Linked DNA regions of Homo sapiens. The protein of the gene in region 1 interacts with the protein of each later gene in a biochemical or structural test. Each region holds a gene or a part of one and is shown on either strand. Other genes may lie near its edges. The genes, in order: CCDC6 and CREB1.

Region 1 (7,495 bases):
AGAAGCTCCACAATGAAAAACGTTCCTGGACTCTGCCCTATATGCTTTTTCCCTTGACTGATTTTAACCTGCATCCTTTCCCTGTAATAAACTGTACCTGTGAGTATAAAAATAAGTAATTTAAAAAATAAAATTACAGTTTATTCCAAATGCTATCAAGGAAATTAAATGCATACATTTCATTAAAAATAAAAAATAAAAAGCAACCATGATCTGTGAAGTGTTGGGGGTAAGATATGGGGGGATGACCCTTCCCTCCTGGAGGACAAGCTCTTGCCATGGGTTATTCCCTCATCCAGCATCTCCACATCTGGGTGCTTACTGGCACCAAGCCCAGAGCTGGGCGTAGGGCTAGGGCACTGCACATTTGCTGAGTGACAGAAAAGAACCATATATGGGACAGCTAACAGGCAGTACAAACTTAAGTTAAAATAAGACATCAACACTTAAGGTCCAAATTTATAACTTCAAGACCAGGACAGTAAAAAGCAGCTAGCAGCTTTTGTAGACCAGAGTAAGTCTTTCTTTAAAAAAAAAAACAAACAAAAACAAGAACAAAAACAAACAAACAAAAAAAATTAAGTCACTAGGAATAGAGGTTTACCAGGGAGGAAAAAAAAATGGGTGTTATTGTTTAATGGGTACAGAGTTTCCTTTTGGGATGATGAAAAGTTCTGGATATGGATAATGGTGATGGTTGCAAAACACTGTGAATGTACTTAAAGCCACTGAATTGTACACTTACAAATGGTTAAAATGGTGAATTATATGTTGTGTATGTTTTTATCACAAAAAAAAATGCAAAAAAAGTCACTGGTACTCTTCTCTGGGTACCTAAGGTATTTCACAATATAAACCCCATGCATGCAAGGCTCAAAATGGCATAAAACAGTTAATATACTTTCCAAGGGACATAAACCCTTACCAGGTAGTGATTTGAACCTGAAGAAGTCTAACTCTACTTTATGGAGAATACACTTAAAACAGTACTCTTTGGTTAATAAAAACAATAAAATCACCTAGTCAATTTTTTCCTCAAAGATTAGTAGGGCTACTAAATGAAGTGAAGACACGATGTTTTGACTCAACGGATGTCTTTGTTTAGATAAACTCTGGTCTAGTGAAGAACTCCACCCCACAAAAAACATCTCTCAGTAGAATAAAAGTTATCATTTGAGTTGGTATATTAGGATAATTTTTTTTTTTTTTGAGATGGAGTTTCACTCCTGTTGCCCAGGCTGGAGTAAAATGGTGCAATCTCGGCTCACCGCAACCTCCACCTCCCGGGTTCAAGCGATTCTCCTGCCTCAGCCTCCCGAGTAGCTGGGATTACAGGCATGCACCACCATGCCCAGCTAATTTTTTGTATTTTTAGTAGAGAAGGGGTTTCTCCATGTTAGTCAGGCTGGTCTCAAACTCCCGACCTCAGGTGATCCGCCTGCCTCGGCCTCCCCAAAGTGCTGGGATTACAGGCGTGAGCCATCACACCTGGCCTATTAGGATAATTTTTAAAAAGTCAAGCTTGCATACAAGTAATTTCATGAGTTGAAAAGTTATCTATATGAAACTCCAGGTATAATTATTTTTCTCTCAGATCTGTCCCTTTTAGCCTCTCTAATTCAATCTCAACAAGCAGACAGCACAAAAGACTCAAACTGTTCACTTATAGAAGCAACAGGTGAAGTGTTTAACACAGGTAACTAGATTTCTAAGAATTTTCTTTAGGTCACCCATAATCCCTGCTGCTTTCATTCTTTTACTCTCGTCCTTCCTCCTATGGAAAACTTTTTGAATGATGACTTATGCCTGGCTGAACATCCCAACTCTGCTCTGCAGTACCAAGTGGCCTCATTTGATCCTCAGTGCCCTGAGATGCCCTGGTGGGTATTACCCAGATCACTTTGGACACACACCTGGCACCACAAGGCTGGATTGATCTGGAACAGATGCATGGAAGATTAGCCCATCAATCAGCACTGCTTTTGTAAAAAACTAGAATTCAAAATTTCCTATAAAATAGTACCTCTAATTTTACTGCAAGAAGTCTTTGCTTTCAGATAGTTTCGGATTAAAAACTTGAGAAATTCCGTCCATCCACCATTATTCCATGAAAGAAACAGGAATAGAGGGAAAAAAACCACCTAGATAATTTCCATGTACTGACAGATGCAGATTATGAAATTAAAATATCAATGACATTTCTTTTCAATCATCATCACATAAAAACAAAAATTAAAAACAAACCAAAAGCCTCCCAGTGCCACCTCAGCATAAATTGAGCAACAGCTCTCCCCATCTCTGCCTTACATAATAAACTACAAGCTAATTAAACTGTGAATGAATGTGATAACTTGTTACCCTTAAAGATATTCACAGAGATAGATGAACTTCATTTTGGAAGCTGGAAGGTAAAATTCCCCTCCCTGGGAACCCCTACAGGAGTCGGCCTAAGCTTCCCTTCCTGCATCCATGTGTGTGTTGGTTCCTTCTGCACTGCACAATCCCCAAGGCTGGAGAGAAAGGCTGTTTCCCTCTGCTCTGTATTCCCTACAGCACCAGGCCAGGGCCAGGCTGAATGAAAGTCAAGTGCAATCCTCGCTATGCTACCGGGAGAGCCCTAACATTCCTTTTGGATATTTGTATCCAGCACACAGTATTATAAGCACTTGACAGCTGAATCCTGCCTCTTTGAGGCTATATTTATTTTATTTATTACATGCCATTTTGTACCTTACTGAAGAAACAAAGGCGGGGGCAGAGAGGGGAGACCAGAAAAATCTCCCAGCAAAAAACAAATGAGTATTGTAATGAACTATAATCATTAAATTGCACTCCATATGTCTGATCCAGGAACCAATAAGTAAAGGGGAGGGTTAATTCTAAATGACCATCAATCATATTGTTAAGCCTTTTTTAAAAGAATACTTATCCCTAAAGAGAGAACCTACACAAAGTGACCTTTGCAATTTACTGGTATCAGGGTTGGAATAGACTTCACAGCTGTGCATTTCACAGCCATAAAAGATAAGAAAATTTGACAGCCTTGGAGAAGTAGGAAGAATCTGCAAGTTAACACCACCCCAAGATCCTCACAATTAAAAATATTTTCCAGAGGATTAGTTCCTCTGTCAAGAAAATTGCAACCATCACCAAGCAGGAACATATTGAACCTGTGAACATTTACTCTGCCAACTTTGACAATTCAATATACCTGAAAACAACCACAATGTGATTGAAAACAAAAAGCAACACCTACCCACTAAGGAAAAAAAGTATGCAGAGAGGACAGAAAAGATTACCATTATTCCTTACTCAGCCTGACTGCAGTTCAGTAGTTTGGATTAGCATTTTGAAGTGTAAACACAATTATTTCGGCAAGGCATGATTTAAGGAAAACACACACACACAAATACACTGTGGTGACACTTGTGTCTCTGCAAGACACAGCAGACGTAAGAATTCAACAATCCCCCTACCCTGTTTTCAGATGCTTCCCCCATCACTGCTACAGGTCACCAGTATTTATTTGCATTACTGCATCCCCCTGCAATGGGCCAGAGTTGTTTCCCAGTGGTGCATTTCAACATTAAAGAGTCATAGGAAACACCTGGAATGATCTGCCACCATCACCAAAACCAAGGCAGCAAATCTGAACACTTCCAATGGGGCTACTTTTTCCTCCAAGCCCTGCTCAGAAACACTTAGAAAGGAGAACCTGAAAATACTTTGTCCCCTTTCAGATAAAATGTTATCAGGAACACCCAGGTGTATGCTGCAAGGTAGCCCACATCACCCAAAGCTAGAAGGCAAGGGCACACTGATTGCAATGGTCCCCCAAAGTATACAATGCATCCATTCACATATCTGGTCTGTTTCATCAACTATGGTAAAGAAAGTGTTTGCTGTTGTGGCAGGGGAGTGGCTCTATGAAGACAAGGTCCCAGAGAGAGTGTTGGCACCTTCATCACAGAAAGAAACAAGTACATACATACCCGTGCCTCTGGAGCCAGCTCAACAAATTTCTGGGTGTTTCTCACATGCCAAGCACTGAGGAATGTGATGAACAAGGCAAATTCTGCCCCCAAAGAAATTTACACATGAACCGGGAAAGATCTCGATAGTCGAGTGTCAGTGACGTGGGGTGGGGGGGGTGGTGTCTATGGAACCACGGAAGTAGGTGCATACCCCAGTAGCAGGTGCATACCCCGGTGTGTGGCTGACAAAGAGGAAGTATCAGGGCATACCAGGAAGGGGTTCAGGTGGAGAAGGCAGTACAGTCTATTTCAACTGACAAGGTAGAAAAGAGGGGAGGAATACAGAAGAACATTTAAGGGGACGAGCGGCACCATTGAGGAGCCAGAGGAAATCTACTGAAGTTCTGGGTGCTAGTAGTAAAGGAGTGATGTGAGAGCTTAGAGAATGCACACTGGGCTAAACGCATGTAAGAGGTGTGGCTGTGAAGCAAGCAGGGCATTCCAATCATGCAGAGCCTGGTAAACCACCAGAAGGTTCACCTGGATCCAAGGACAATGGGGAGTCATTCAATATGTTTAAGCAAGCAATGGCTACCTTCAATTTTTGCTGTAGACCAGCCTCTCTGGTCCTGAACAAGAGTCACCACAAACCAGATACTGTGAATTCTCTAATGATTCCCCATCTCTAGCAAATAGGAAGCACTGTAAAAGACTGTCATGACCTTTAAAATTTCAGCTTTTGGCTGGGCATGGTAGCTCACACCTGTAATCCTAGCACTTTGGGAGGCAGAGGTGGGTGGATCACTTTAGGCCAGGAGTTCTGAGACCAGCCTGGACAACATGGTAAACACCACCTCCACTAAAAATACAAAACTAGGTGGGCATGGTGGCGCATGCCTGTAGTCCCAGCTAGTAGGGAGGCTGAGGCATGAGAATCACTTGAACCTGGGGGGCAGAGGTTGCAGTGAACTGAGATCGCACCACTGCACTCCAGTCTGGGTAATAAAGCTGTCACACACACACAAAAAAAACAAACGGTTTTTAAAAATTAAGTACAAATAGAGTATATGAAACACATAGAAGATACTTACAAATGTGAAAAAACTCGTAAATGCTGAAGAAATAGGAGAATGGCCTCTTTAAGAAGACTTGTGTACAGTTAGACCTAACTGTGAGGTCATATTTTCCTCAAAGTTGTGTCTAAAGTTGTGTGTTTCCATAAGAATCTAAGAAATACTTTTCTAAACGGGGGGAAAAAAGACATCACACTCTCATCGTCACATTTATAAAGGCAATATCGATTTGTAGCTTCAGAGTCTGACAAAAGTCTTAAAAATTGAAAATAACATATTAGACTTCCAGAGTAAATAATCCAAAATATACAACATCAACTATATGGCAGATTTTATTGGTTAATGAAACCATTACACTGTTGATGTTTAAAATAGCCAGGTTTTCTAATCATGCCAGACCAACATATTTTTCTATTATAACTTCAAAACACCTTGTACTTCTGTATTTCCCTTAACTTCTACAATAAAGGATTAATTTTACAGTCAGAGAGACACTTAAATATCAGTGATTTATTATAGGCCTTGATTTCCAAACCAAACACATACCAAAGGTCTGAAACTGCCTGGAAGAGGTACACACCCTAGAGAACCACCTGAGGCCCTGCTTATACACGGAGAATGCCAGCAACTAGCTGAGAACTTTGAAGCCATCCAATTACTGCCCACAATTGCATTTCCTCACCTTCTCTAAGACCACCACCCCACAATAACCCTCACTACACTGAATCATATAATCCACAATCACATTCTCACTCATAGGACAAACCAACAGATCTGGCCTAACATACAAAAGCTACTCAAAAAGGTGACTATGCATTTGTTTATTTCCCCTACTCCAAAAAAAAGAAATTATGATCTGTAATCAGTAGCCTGATTCCCCTGCTGACTTCATGGGGAAAATTGAATAATCACTCAAAATATTCTATTCCACTTTTAAGCCCCAAATAAAATGGCCTAGGGCAGGCTATAACTCACAGGTGCACTGGGCGCTTGTGGACACGACTGAAAGACTGCTTACTGTTGATTGTCTCCCACAGATGATGTTTACCACTATTATACAGATACTGAGAACACAGGCCCATGAAACTAGTCGTTCATTAAATGGGTAGTTTGACCAGAATAGCCGCTTACATACCAGAAGAGACCATTGGTTAAGAGCTTCTATTAGCCTTTGGACTTGGCTTTAAAAAGGGCATAACAGAGATATTACTATACACCTATTGGAATGGTCAAAATCTAGAACACTGACTACAGCAAATGTTGGTGAGCAACAGTAACTCTTTTTTTTTTTTTTTTTTTTTTTGAGATGAAGTCTGGCTCTGTCACCCAGACTGGAGTGCAGTGGTGCGACATTGGCTCACTGCAACCTCCACCTCCTGGGTTCACGCCATTCTCCTGCCTCAGCCTCCAAAGAGGCTGGGATTACAGGCATGCAACACCATCCCCAGCTAATTTTTCTGTATTTTTTTCAGTAGAGATGGGGTTTCACCATGTTGGCCAGGCTGGTCTCGAACTCTTGACCTGAGGTGATCCGCCTGCCTTGGCCTCCCCAAAGTGCTGGGATTACAGGCATGAGCCACCGCGCCCGGCCCCGCCAAAGCAACTCTTATTCACTGTTGGTGGGAATGAAAAACGATGCAGCCACTTTGGAAGACAGTTTGGCAATTTCTTATAAAACTAAACATACTCTTACCATATAATTCAGCAATCATGCTCTTTGGAATTTACCCAAATGAACTGATATCTTTCCAGACAAAACCCTTCATATGAATATTTCCAGCAGCTTTATTCATAATTGCCAAAAGGTGGAAACAACCAAGATGCCCTACAGGAGGTGAAGAGATAAATTATGATACATCCAAACAATGAAATACTATTTAACTCTGAACAGAAAACAAGATATAGGAGTTGGGGAACATGGAAGAAACTTAAATGCATTTACTAAGTGAAAAGTCTGCATACTGTATGATTCCAACTATATGACATTCTGGAAAAGGCAAAACTAAGGAGAGAGTAAAAAAAATCAGTGGTTGCCAGGAGTTTGCAGGGAGGGAAAGATGAACAGAGCGTGGAAGACTTCCAGGGCAGAAAAACTCTGCGTAATACTATAATGGTGGACACATGTCATTATACATTTGTCTAAACTCATAGAATATACAAGACCAAGTAAACTCTAGACTTTGGGTGATAATGATGTATCAACGTAGGTTCACTGACTATAACAAATGGACCACTATGATGAAAGATGTTGATGGTGGAGGAGGCTGTGCCCGTGTGAAGGCAGGGGTTACGTGGGAAATCTCTGTACTTTATGTTCAGTGTTACGTGAAGATAAAAGTGCTCTAAAAAAATAAAGTCTATTAAAAAACAAAACAAGTCGGGGGAAAAAAAGAGCCCGGCTCTTCCCCAGGGTGTGGCAAAAAGGCAATGTGTCTTCCTGAACTTGCT
Region 2 (7,495 bases), on another chromosome or scaffold:
AAAGACATTCACACGTTAGCCTAGGCCTACACAGGGTCAAGATTGTCAACATCACAGCCTTCCACCTCCACAACGTGTCCCACTGGAATGTCTTCAAGGGGCAATCACATGCATGGAGCTGTCATCTCCTATGGTAACAATGCCTTCTTCTGGAATACCTCCTGAAGGACCTATCTGAAGTTCTTAATAGGTTTGCTTACACTAGCACAGGACCACTGTTGTATATGCAATCTGTCATTCACCAAAACGTTCTTATACAGTGCATGACTGTATATCTCTGTCTACACTAAGGAGAAGAATTGGGAGTCAGGAAATCTACATTTCAGCCCAATTTATCATTGTATTCCTGTTTATATCTTACCTTCTCTTACATGAAACTCAAAGCTCCCTGCCTCATACTCAGCATTCCTCAAAATGTAGATCTATAATCTAATACTTTCTTCACCAATTTATGAGTATGTCAAGTTCATTATATGTCCATGTTTTCATTTTTTTGTCCATTCCACTGCCTAGAATACACTCCATTTTATCTGTACTTACTGAAGTTCTTTAGTATTCAACTTGAATTCTACTTCTCCCACAAAACTTTTCCTCACTAAGCCCCTTCTCTTCTGAACTCTGTAGCTCTTCAAGACAGTAAAAACTCTGTCATGTACTCTGGCACATATAAATCATTCTTACACTATTTCATCATCCCTACTATACCGTAAGATTCTTGAGGGTAGGAGCCATATAGTCAGGCTTTATTGCTTATATCAACTAGAACAATCTTCATTTAATACCTAGGTATTTTTATAAATACCTAACTGAATAAATTTTCTTGCGATTATTTCACCAACCATAATAAAGTCAATGGTCAATAAATCTTCACTGAATAAATGATTGATAAATGGCAATACATAAAGTCAAGGTGTCACCATTGATCACAGCAAACAATAGAGCTACTACTGATACTTATTATAAGAAAATGACTCCCCTTTAAGAGTACAAATAGGGCTGGGGGCGGTGGTTCATGCCTGTAATCGGAGGCTGAGGCAGGCAGATCACATAAGGTCAGGAGTTCGAGACCAGCTTGGCCAACATGGTGAAATCCTGTCTCTACTAAAAATACAAAAAAAAAAAAAAAAAATTAGCCAGGTATGGTGGCACATGCTTGTAATCCCAGCTACTTGGGAGGCTGGGGCAGCAGAATCGCTGGAACCCAGGAGGCGGAGGTTGCAGTGAGCCGAGATCACACCACTGCATTCCAGGCTGGGAGACAGAGCGAGATTCCTCTCAAAAAAAAAAAAAAAGAGTACAAATAATTCAGAATAATCTGTAATTTTCACTTCAGTGGTGAAAAACAAGGTATTTCTGTGTCCCCTACTGCCAACTACTTACTTATACCAACAGGGATAACAGCCCTCAAAAATAATGGTTATTTAACCTTGGGTAAATTACAAACATTTTTAGTTACATCTGTACTGTCATACAGTTACAACCAAAAACTCACAAGTAGATAACCAGATCCTTAGAAATTCACTTAAAATTGATGAAAGAAACGTCTTCATTTCAGAGAAGATGCACTAACCTTTGGGAAAAGACACATTCTATCATCATTGGTATAAGTCAACTTTCAGATCCACTCTACTCCTAAACTATTTTATTAATAACTTCCCTTTTAACCCTTTCTTATCTAATCAAATGTCACTTCTCTTCTTTCAGAAAAAACTCACCATCAATTCCTTAGACCTCATCCTCTCAAAACCTCGCCCCTTTTAAGATTATTTTTTAGAGATCCTAGAATCATCCAAGAGGAAGAAAACTGAAAGGGTGTTTTTCATCTTTGTTCACACAGCTAGTCTCACGGTAAACTCCTTTATCACCTTATTTCAACTCTAAGAAAAGGCAACTTAGCATCTGTAAGTTCATCAAGGAGTACTACTGTTTATTTTCTTTTTTAGGAGTTGAGATTATGTACCTAGCTTCAAGAATTTTTTAATACACAGTGATTTTTCATCACTGGAGATGTATAATGCACGTATTAAATTATAGGTAATTATTCATCACTGGAGAAACTGCCTTCTCATCTGTTGGAATAAACGCCAGAATACGTTTTTCTAAGCTAACATCTTTCTGGTAGCCTAGAAGACAAATGAGGAAACATCTGGGCAAAATATAATACAGGGTAAGCATCCCTAATAAAACATCCAAAATCTCAAACTTTTTGAGCACTGACATGATGCCATGAAAAATTCCCACACCTGACCTCATGTAACAGTTCACAGTCAAAACTGTTTCATGCACAAAATTATTAAAAATTTTGTATAAAATTACCTTCAGGCTATGTGTATAATGTGTATATGAAACAAATTTCATGTTTAGACTTGGGTCCCATCCCCAAGATAGCTCATTATGTATGTATATGCAAATATTCTAAAATCTGAAAAAACCCAAAACTGGAAATACTTCTGGTCCCAAGAATTTCAGATAAAAGATTCTCAACCTGTAAAACCTATCTTCATAGGGCCTTGTCTGGCAGAGCTTAAAAAGAGAGAGAGAAAAGGCAAAACAAAAAACAACAACAAAAAAACCCAGTAGATAAGACAAGAGTGTGTATATATTAAGGGGAGTCAGACATTCTGAATGTGAATAAAAACTAACGTCTATTCTTATTTAAGTTTTGTCTCAAAAACCTACATTTACAGATGTGATAAAACCACACCTTCTACTTACAACTTCAACAAGCTGACCAGCATCTGGCTCTTCTATAATGACTAAACTAGCATATATTTAATTGGCAGAGAAAAAACAACCACGTTCACATTATCAGTTTGCTGCTTTAATGATCTTTGCCTCCACCCCAAGAGGCAATCCACTGATGATTCCATGACACTGTGGGAAATCATTTAACTCTGTTAGTCTACAGATATGTTCCAGATAAAAAACGTTCTGCCTTTACAGATTTCAATGATCTACCCCACCCCCATCCCCAAATATGTAAAGACAAGCACTTTGTAGGCCAGGCGCAGTGGCTCACGCCTGTAATCCCACCACTTTGGGAGGCAGAGGTGGGTGGATCACGAGGTCAAGGAGATCGAGACCATCCTGGCCAACATGGTGAAACCCTGTCTCTTTAGCTGGGCATGGTGGCAGGCGCCTGTAATCCCAGCTACTTGGGAGGCTGAGGCAGGGGAATCGCTTTAACCCAGGAGGCGGAGGTTGCAGTGAGCTGAGATCGCACCACTGCACTCCAGCCTGGCAACAGAGAAAGACTCCGTCTCAACAACAACAACAACAACAAAGCACTTTGTAAACATTTTAATCATTTAGCAGGTACAAATAGCACACAGTAATATTTTATTTATGAGATGGCATCTTGCTCTGTCACCCAGAGTGGAGTTCAGTGGGGTGATACTGGCTCACTGCAACCTCCACTTCCAGGGCTCAAGCAATTCTCCTGCCTCAGCCTCCCAAGCAGCTGGGACTACAGGCGTATACAACTATACCCAGATAATTCTTCTATTTTTAGTAGAGATGGGGTTTCACCATCTTGGCCAGGCTGGTCTCAAACTCCTGGCCTCAAGTGATCCGCCCGCCTCGACCTCCCAAAGTGCCGGGATTACAGACGTGAGCCACCACGCCTGGCCAAATAGCACATAGTAATATTTTAAATCAAATATTAGTAAAACCTCAAAACAATATTCTTACATTAAAAACTTTGTATATATGATCAACGCATAAACACCAACTTGGGAATACAAAAAACGAAATATACCATGACAGCTTTTGTTTTTTTCTTAAGACAGAGTTTCGCTCTTGTCGCCCAGCCTGGCGTGCAATGGTGCAATCTCAGCTCACTGCAACCTCTGCCTTCCAGGTCCAAGTGATTATCCTGCCTCAGCCTCCTGAGTAGCTGGGATTGCAGGCGCCTGCCCCCATGCCCAGCTAATTTTTGTATTTTTAGTAGAGACGGGGTTTCACCATGTTGGCCAGGCTGGTCTCGAACTCCTGACCTCAGGTGATCCACCTACCTCAGCCTCCCAAAGTGCTGGGATCACACAGGCGTCAGCCACCGCGACTGGCCCATGACAGCTTTACTTAATGATGTTTTCTGGAAAGAGATTTGTGCCCTTGCTGCTATATTATTAATCACTTTCTGAGTTTAATCAACTCAAAAAAGTCATAGTGTGTACATTTTAAAGATAAATACAAACAGCATGTATATTTAAAATGTACTACAGCATTCGGGCATGGTGGCTCACGCTTGTAATCCCAACTCTTTGGGAGGCTGAGGCAGGTGGATGGCTTGAGCTCATGAGTTTGAGACCAGCCTGGGCAACATGGCGAAACTCTGTCTCTACAAAAAATTAGCCGGGCCTGGTGGTGCGCGCCTGTTGTCCCACTCACTCAGGAAGCTGAAATGGGAGGATGGCTTGAGCCAGGAAACAGAGGTTGCAGTGAGCCAAGTGTGTGCCACTGCACTCCAGCCTGGGTGATAGAGCCAAACCTTGCCTCAAAAAAATAAATAAATAAAAATAAATAAATAAATAAATAAATAAAAAAGTATTGTAGCTCAATGCTGTTTCGAAAAGCTAGAGGAAAAAAAAAAGGTAGTGAAACGCATTTTGTGCTTTGGCTGAAATACGTATTACTTGGTCCAACTGGTTGACCAAAGGTTTCCCCACGGGGGTAAAAAAATCATCTATGCAGTAAAGTTTATCATCTCAGCAATCATATAGGTGAATCTCACTATTTTTAAATTTAGGTACAAAATATAAAACTCACATAATTACATTAAGAAATACTAGAAAATCGTCAAGGTAAGTTAACAAGTATGTAAAAAATAAATGAATGCAGGGAGAAATCTAGTATAGTAATCAGCCTTACTGGGTAATAATATCCCATGAGCTGTCTGTTAAAAAAAACCCAAAAAAACACCGGACTATATGAAATGTTCTTTCTCATTAAGAAAGAAAGCTATAAAAACCTTTTGGGCCAAAATAATAATTGAAAGAAGTAGTCTGTTCAGAACTGTAAGAACCTCAACAAAAGAGTTAAATTCACCTTGTGAGTTAACTCTTAACCTGGCTTGCTTGCCTCCTCATGTACATTTTGATCATTTTACTAAAACTTTTAAAAACTGGAGTTAAACAGGAAATGAGGGACTTTAAATAACAATTTCCTGTCACAAACTATTTATTTTTCATTCAAATAGAAAGTTTTTCATTTAAAGAAATAAAGGCAAGATGGCAGTTTCCCTTAGTTTAAAAGGTAATATAAGACCTAAGAATAAAAGCAGCTCACTAACTGGTTAATACAGTCTACTTACATAATAAAATGCTTCCAATTGTATGTTAAAAAATGAAGAAGCTCTTTATGTGCTGATACAAAATTGCTAAGCCATATTAAGTGGTGGGGGTAAAGCATGATATAGGAGAGCGTATACCTAGTATGCTACCATTTGTACAAAAAGGGGGAGACTGTACATACATATTTGCTCGTGTTTGCATAAAACACCTCTTAAAGGACAAATAAAAAATTGCTAACACTTAGGTAATAGGGCAAGAGAATGTAGGGCATTTTGCTGTTATTATGTTTTGAATTATAGATCATGTGAATGAATTACTTATTCAAAAAACCAAATTAGAAATATAAAAAATATACTCCTCACTTCACCAAAGGTGATCCCTTTTTCCTTTGACTGCTTTCTTTTGACACATATTTTGCCTTAGTCACTGTGTCCCCAACAGTTCCTGAGGGTAGAGATAAGACAGCGTAATTCATCTTTGGATTTGTTGTAGCTTCTGACCCACTGTATTACATATAGTAATAATAAATAATTTAAAAAGTAACAGACCAGCTGGGCGTGGTGGCTCACGCCTATAATCCCAGGCATTCAAGACCAGCCTGACCAACATGGTGAAACCCTGTCTCTACTAAAAACACAAAAATTAGCCGGGCGTGGTGGTGCATGCCTGTAGTTCCAGCTACTAGGGAGGCTGAGGCAGGAGAATCACTTGAATCCAGGAAGCAGAGGTTGCCGTGAGCTGAGACTGCATCACTGCACACCATCCTGGGCAACAGAGCAAGACTCCGTCTCAAAAAAAAATTAAAACAAAAGAAAAAAGCCTTGTCAACACTTGAGCACTTGACACTTGCACAATGCCTGGGACTTAGTATGTATTACTTTATAGTTAACCCCCACAATTCTGAGGTAGTTGTTCTACACTGATCAGAAAGGAAAGTGAGGTATTAAGAAGTTAAGATAACTTGCCTAAGGGCCCACAGGTAGGAAGTTAAAATAAAGCTTAAGGGACTAGCTATCATTAGTTGTAGCCCTAAGGTACTTTATGTTTATCTCGCAATCTTATGAAATAAGTAGTAGTATTCTAATTTTACATATAAGGAAACTGAGGCTGAGAAAGATTAAGAAACTTCCTTCAGGACACAAAATTCCTTTAGGGTGGGTACAGGATAGCAGTGGCAATGCTTGGATTCAGACCTAGGCCTATGATTCCAAACCTCATGCTCTTTCAACTACATTCTCTGTCACAGTGAGTGCCAAATAAATATTTGAATTACCATAAACTGCTGTCTCAAGTGATACTGCAGTACAGATGAGTTTACACATGGGTAAGAAAAAAAAAAATCCTGCATTTTTCCATCTTGACATCTCATTACATTCTTAAATTTAGATTTGAGCTCTATTCAATAAAGAAGCCATCAAAGTTACACCATATATCAAGATATTTGCAAAACTATGTCACAAGCTGGCTGTAAACAAGTTTATGTAACTCATATCTGATAAGCTATTTATGGAATAAATGAAATTATAAATTTCGGTAATATATTGTAAGCATTAGGTTAAAAATAATTTTCTGTTATAAAAAGTAGAATTTAAAAACACGTGAGGAAGACATACTTGGTTTTACTATAACCCCATAACCATACTGTATCCAAACAAACAAAACCAAATGTCTTAGAATGAGAGAGAAATAAAGCTACTTCTCTATGAAGAACCCAAAATTTCTAATAATGAGACCTAATCAAGAATATGAGTTTCAGAAAGTAGAAAAAGGTGCCATTTTTATGGATCAGGTGTCTAAGTTTCTTCAGGCTCTTTATGTAAACAAAAAAAAAATCATTCAAAACAGGTAACACTTAAGTTTTAAATTCCCAAAGAAGTGTTCTTTTAACATTCTTCAAGCAAACTCTGTCAAGTAATTTATTAGCTTTCTAAATGTAGGTGTTCATGAAAAAAAAAAAAAGATTCAAGCAGATCCAGCTGTAATTTTTATCCATGGCTGGAACAGTGCAGAAGTACAATTTAGTAACATGTTCCAGGTGAATGTTCAAGTATTAATGAATACAAGTTTGAAGTTTCACCTGGAATTGCTAAGAATCACAAATTATGAATGTATAAATAATAAAACAGGCCGGGCGCGGTGGCTCACACCTGTAATCCCAGCTACTCGGGGGGCTGGGGCAGGAGAATTGCTTGAACCCGGGAGGC

Evidence for each region.
Region 2: the proteins of CCDC6 (region 1) and CREB1 form a complex in vitro, tested with the Homo sapiens proteins (one study listed by BioGRID).

What each region holds. Positions count from the first base shown.
Region 1 is NC_000010.11:59,896,062-59,903,556, forward strand, and holds part of CCDC6 (coiled-coil domain-containing protein 6), read right to left. Parts: intron 1-7,495.
Region 2 is NC_000002.12:207,532,842-207,540,336, reverse strand, and holds part of CREB1 (cyclic AMP-responsive element-binding protein 1), read right to left. Parts: intron 1-7,495.